Linked DNA regions of Homo sapiens: region 1 is linked to region 2. A link means that fine-mapping ties the variant in region 2 to the expression of a gene that starts in the linked region. Tissue or cell type: whole blood. Region 2 holds a variant in brackets; the other region holds the start of a gene. All regions are shown on one strand. Distances are from middle to middle.

What was found. PIP is the estimated chance that this variant, and not a neighbour inherited with it, causes the effect.
Region 1: TCF20 starts here. The variant in region 2 is fine-mapped to the expression of TCF20 in whole blood (TOPMed, PIP above 0.99).

The regions. Positions count from the first base shown.
Region 1 is chr22:42,269,288-42,271,965 of GRCh38, reverse strand. TCF20 (transcription factor 20) reads left to right here and starts at 1,313. Exons shown (of 6, transcript NM_001378418.1): 1 at 1,313-1,627. It also overlaps the pseudogene OGFRP1. RefSeq lists silencers at 1,220-1,379, 1,520-1,669, 1,730-1,789, 1,930-2,169 and an enhancer at 2,500-2,559.
Region 2 is chr22:42,213,891-42,216,568 of GRCh38, reverse strand. TCF20 (transcription factor 20) reads left to right here. Exons shown (of 6, transcript NM_001378418.1): 2 at 1,228-2,678. The coding sequence starts at 1,264. Among named protein-coding and RNA genes, the nearest start is that of TCF20, 55 kb to the left of the region's middle. RefSeq lists an enhancer at 1,087-1,586. The variant G/C (reference allele first, on the strand shown) is at 1,104.

The DNA.
Region 1 (2,678 bases), 55 kb before region 2:
TGAGACCCTCCTTGGGTAGCCTGAGAAAAGGCAATGGCTAGGTGGGGTGAAAGGTCAAAAAGTAAAAGCAGGCCCCGGGAAGCTGTGTACCTCAAATATATGGAAATCTGGGTTCCAGACCACACCTGGTTCCTGACAATCCCCACCTGCTGCCGGAAGCACTTTTCCAATCCCAACTTTTAAGTTGGGTTGCTTCAGGAGAGGAAGCCACATACTCCCCTAACATCTAGGACAGATGGGAGCCTAATTTAGAATCGGCAATTTTAGCCAACATTAGGGACATCTAATCCAAACTCTCCTCACCCACAGGAAACTGAGGCCCAAAGTGGGAGGAGAATTTGGCCAGGTCAAAGGTCAGGGGCAGGATCACAAATTCTCAACGCATCCTACTCTTGCTGGCCTTGTCACTTTTGATGGCCGTGGGGGCACCAACATCTACATATTAGTTGCTCTACAATTGCGATTTTCTTTATAAAGAAGTCAAGCCCTTCCTTTGCTTTAGAAACATCAGGTTTGCAAAGGAAGGCTGGGAACAAGCTGAGGCCTTGGCACCGCAAATCCTCCGCCTTATCGGCAAATTAATTCGGGACCCTGGGCGCAGTCAGCCTGGCATTGCAGCTTCTTAATGCCGCAGCAGAAGGCAGCTGGAGCGTCCGTTTTACAGGTGAGGTAGGTGGGCCTCCCTCCTCGCGTTTTCCGCGGTGGAAACTGAGGCTCTGAGAGGACCCAAGTCGTTCCTCCACGGACACCTGGAACCCATGGGCGGGGGCTGCCAGGGACCCAGGCGGGACCAGCTAGGTCTTGGGCTGCCCCCGGCCCAGAGGGCTCTTGGCGGGCAGGAGCCGCCCCCACGCCCGACCCCACTAAACAGGTCACCGAGAGGAGACCGGGTCCTCGCCCGCGGACCTCCCGGGCCGCAAGAGGCGCGATTCTGGAGTTGGAGGCTCCAGGGAACTCCAGAAATCCCAGAGAGATTCCGGGCCACCAACTCCCCCAGAAAGTTGGCTCGCGTCCACCCCCAAGACGGCCCTGAGGCGCAGGCCAAGATGGCACTGGGCGGGTGGCGCGCGGCGCCCAGCGGCCGCAGAGGAGAACCCCGTGCGACCCTGCCGCGAGGTGGGGGTCTTCGCGATCCCTACCCGGCGCGCGCCAGCCTCGACGCCGCCGCACGCGGGTGGGCACGCGCGCGCCCGGCCCCGCCCCCAGCGCCCCGCCCCCGCCGCGCGCCCCGCCCCGCCGCGCGCCCTCCCGCCCGCCCGCGCGCCGCGGCCCGGAGCCTCCCCATTGGCCGCGCGCCGTCACCTGACGCTCTGTTATTTCCTGTGTGTTGGGAGAATGGAGAGAAAAAACCCCGAGCCCAGCCGCTTTCGGCCCCTGCGAGGCGGCCGCGGCCTCCGCCAGGGGAGCCCGCCCTGAGGCGCGCCTGACCGGGGAGCGAGCGCGCGGGCCGGAGCGAGCCTCGAGGGGCCGCGGCCCCGGCCCGCCCCGCCGCCGGCCCGGGCGCCCGAGCTGGAGGCGGCGGAGCCACCCCCACCCCCACCCCGCGCAGCGCCGCCCGCCGTCGCCACCGCTCCCTCCCCGCCCGCCCCCGGCGGAGGCCGAGGGACTGGGCGGGGGGCTCCTGCAGGTAACCGCCTCCCGGGCCTGAGGGGCAGGGAGAGGGTTGGGCCTGAAGGACTGGGGCCGGGCCGGGGTGTCCGGCCTCGGGGGCTGGGAGCAGAGGTCCCGGCCGGACCCAACCTGGGAGTGCGGAGCCTCCTGGACTCCGAGTCAGGGCTTGGGGTGCTGAGGGGAGTGTTGCTGCCCGGCCCGACCCAAGAGTGCGGGCAGGGGCCCGGGCCAGGCCTGGCATCAGAGGGCTAAGGTGTCTTGGGCCGGCCCGGGGTTCCGGCGGGGCTTGGGTGCCGGTGCTGGCCCGAGGGTGCGGAGGGAAGGTCTACCTGCTGGTCGCGCGAGGCCTTGGGTGCAAAGGCGGCGGGTGTGAGCGGGCGGCGTCCGGGAGTCAGCGCCGCCTGCTTCGGGGCCCCTGGCAGCCCCGGGGGCACCGGCCGCGCTCGCCTCTTGGCTACGGGCTGGAGGCGAGGCCAGCGGGGCTGGGCCGGGATGTGGGCGGGAGGGCGCCGCGCTGGGGCGCCCAGGAGAGCAGGGGCCCGTTTACTGCCATGTGAACACCTGAAGCCATGTGGACGCGGCTGCTTCTCGCCTGTTGGGGGCGGAGGGCAGGTACCGGCGGGTTGGGCGCAAGGTCCCGGCGCAGGACACACTTCCTGTGTGGGGCGGCCTCTCCTCCCGCGCCGCGGGGAACAGGGCGGGGTGTGCAAGCCGGGGTCTCTGGGCGAGGGAGCGCTCGTTTGGGGACCTGAGGCTTTCGTCCCTTTTTCGGGGGAAAGTGGTGGTTTGAAGGAGCGTGGCCAATCGGGCCGATCCCTCTCAGGCTACGGCGGGAGGTGCACTGTCCTCTGGACGCCGGAATGGGAGTGGAATTTAGTGAGTTGGGGGGCGGTGCCGAGGAGCGGCCGTCTTCCTCTGCTTGTGGGTGGGATTATTGTCTGTTTTTGTGGTTGCGGATACCAATACGGTCTGCTGGTCTGTATTCAATCCTTTAGTTTGACCTTAGGGGTCAGGTCAAAATTAGGATTTCCCCCTTTTCCTTTTTGCTTTTTTTTCCTCGAAGATTA
Region 2 (2,678 bases):
TGGCTTAAGTCTAGCCCTTTGTACCTGGGAATTGAAGGAGAGTGGTGGAGAGAGGGGTGCTGTAGACACAGTCATATGCCAAGAAGAGGTTGACTCCAAAGTTTGTGTGGAACCCATATGGGCTGAGTGTCCTGGAGTCACCAGTCATCACAGGTAGTTGGCAATTATAGTAAAGCTGCAAAAATTTGCACTTGGACATAAGGAATTGGCTGCAGTTCTCTGGCCAGGTCTGTTTCTCAGTGTTGGGGAGTGGCGATCAGCAGCCAGTGTTAAAACCCGCAGTTCAGTGATCACCCTAATACATGAAAGCAGAGAAATGAAAGTAGTGGCTTATGCCTGTAGTCCCAAAACTTTGAGAGGCCGAGGCAGGAGGATCATTTGAAGCCAGGTGTTTGATGCTGCAGTGAACTACGACTGTGCCCCTGCACACTCCAGCCTGGGCAAGAGTGAGACCTTGTCTCAAAAAAAAAAAAAAAAAAAAAAAAAAAAGGATTTGGTTTTTCTTACCCCACACCCCCTCCCCCGCATAACTGGGAGGCTTATTGAAAAATTGCTGTTTTTCATTGACAGTAATAACACAGCCCCATATTTTAATCTGGTTGAGTTTGGGGGCTCATTTGTCTAATAAGGCATTATTAGATATATGAGACATACATGTTTTTGCTGTATTGGGTTTGTATGCACTCAGAGTGCTGCTTTTCATTCTACTACAGATTCTTGCCTCACTCTTTAGGCCATTTCTCTGCATATGTGCATTTTCAGAAGTGGATAGGATAAAATATAAAAGATGAAATTCAAGGTCAGGCGTGGTGGCTCATGCCTGTAATTCCAGCACTTTGGGAGGCCGAGGTGGGCGGATCACGAGGTCAGGAGTTCGAGACCAGCCTGGCCAGCACAGTGAAACCCTGTCTCTACTAAAAATACAAAAAATTAGCCGAGCCTGGTGGCCATGCGCCTGTAGTCCCAGCTACTCGGGAGGCTGAGGCAAGAGAATTGCTTGAACCCTGCAGGCAGAAGTTGCATTGAGCTGAGATCGTGCAATTGCACTCCAGCCTGGGTGACAGAGTGAGACTCTTGTCTCAAAAAACCAAAAAAAAAAAATA[G/C]AAATTCAAACCAGTCAGCTTCATCTGGGCCTCTGATTCATCTTTATTCCCTCCATCATCTAGACTTGATTTTATTTGTACCAAGGAGATGCGTGTCTAATGTTTTTCTTTCTTCTATTTCTAGGAGGGCTGTTGGCCTGCTGCTGTGCTGCTGAACAGTATGCAGTCCTTTCGGGAGCAAAGCAGTTACCACGGAAACCAGCAAAGCTACCCACAGGAGGTACACGGCTCATCCCGGCTAGAAGAGTTCAGCCCTCGTCAGGCCCAGATGTTCCAGAATTTTGGAGGTACAGGTGGCAGTAGTGGCAGCAGTGGCAGTGGCAGTGGTGGTGGACGACGAGGAGCAGCAGCTGCTGCGGCAGCGATGGCTAGCGAGACCTCTGGCCATCAAGGTTACCAGGGTTTCAGGAAAGAGGCTGGAGATTTTTACTACATGGCAGGCAACAAAGACCCCGTGACTACAGGAACCCCACAGCCTCCTCAGCGAAGGCCTTCTGGGCCTGTGCAGAGCTATGGACCCCCCCAGGGGAGCAGCTTTGGCAATCAGTATGGGAGTGAGGGTCATGTGGGCCAGTTTCAAGCACAGCACTCTGGCCTTGGCGGTGTGTCACATTATCAGCAGGATTACACTGGGCCTTTCTCTCCAGGGAGTGCTCAGTACCAACAGCAGGCTTCCAGCCAGCAGCAGCAGCAGCAAGTCCAGCAGTTGAGACAACAGCTTTACCAGTCCCATCAGCCCCTGCCACAGGCCACTGGCCAACCAGCATCCAGCTCATCCCATCTACAGCCAATGCAGCGGCCCTCAACTCTGCCATCCTCTGCTGCTGGTTACCAGTTAAGAGTGGGTCAGTTTGGCCAACACTATCAGTCTTCTGCTTCCTCCTCCTCCTCCTCCTCCTTCCCTTCACCACAGCGTTTTAGCCAGTCTGGACAGAGCTATGATGGCAGTTACAATGTGAATGCTGGATCTCAGTATGAAGGACACAATGTGGGTTCTAATGCACAGGCTTATGGAACACAATCCAATTACAGCTATCAGCCTCAATCTATGAAGAATTTTGAACAGGCAAAGATTCCACAAGGGACCCAACAGGGGCAGCAGCAGCAGCAACCGCAGCAACAACAACACCCTTCTCAGCATGTGATGCAGTATACTAACGCTGCCACCAAGCTGCCCCTGCAAAGCCAAGTGGGGCAGTACAACCAGCCTGAGGTTCCTGTGAGGTCCCCCATGCAGTTTCACCAGAACTTCAGCCCCATTTCTAACCCTTCTCCAGCTGCCTCTGTGGTTCAGTCTCCAAGCTGTAGTTCTACCCCATCTCCTCTCATGCAGACTGGGGAGAATCTCCAGTGTGGGCAAGGCAGTGTGCCTATGGGTTCCAGAAACAGAATTTTACAGTTAATGCCTCAACTCAGTCCAACCCCATCAATGATGCCCAGTCCTAATTCTCATGCTGCAGGCTTCAAAGGGTTTGGACTAGAAGGGGTACCAGAAAAGCGACTGACAGATCCTGGGTTGAGTAGTTTGAGTGCTCTGAGTACTCAAGTGGCCAATCTTCCTAACACTGTCCAGCA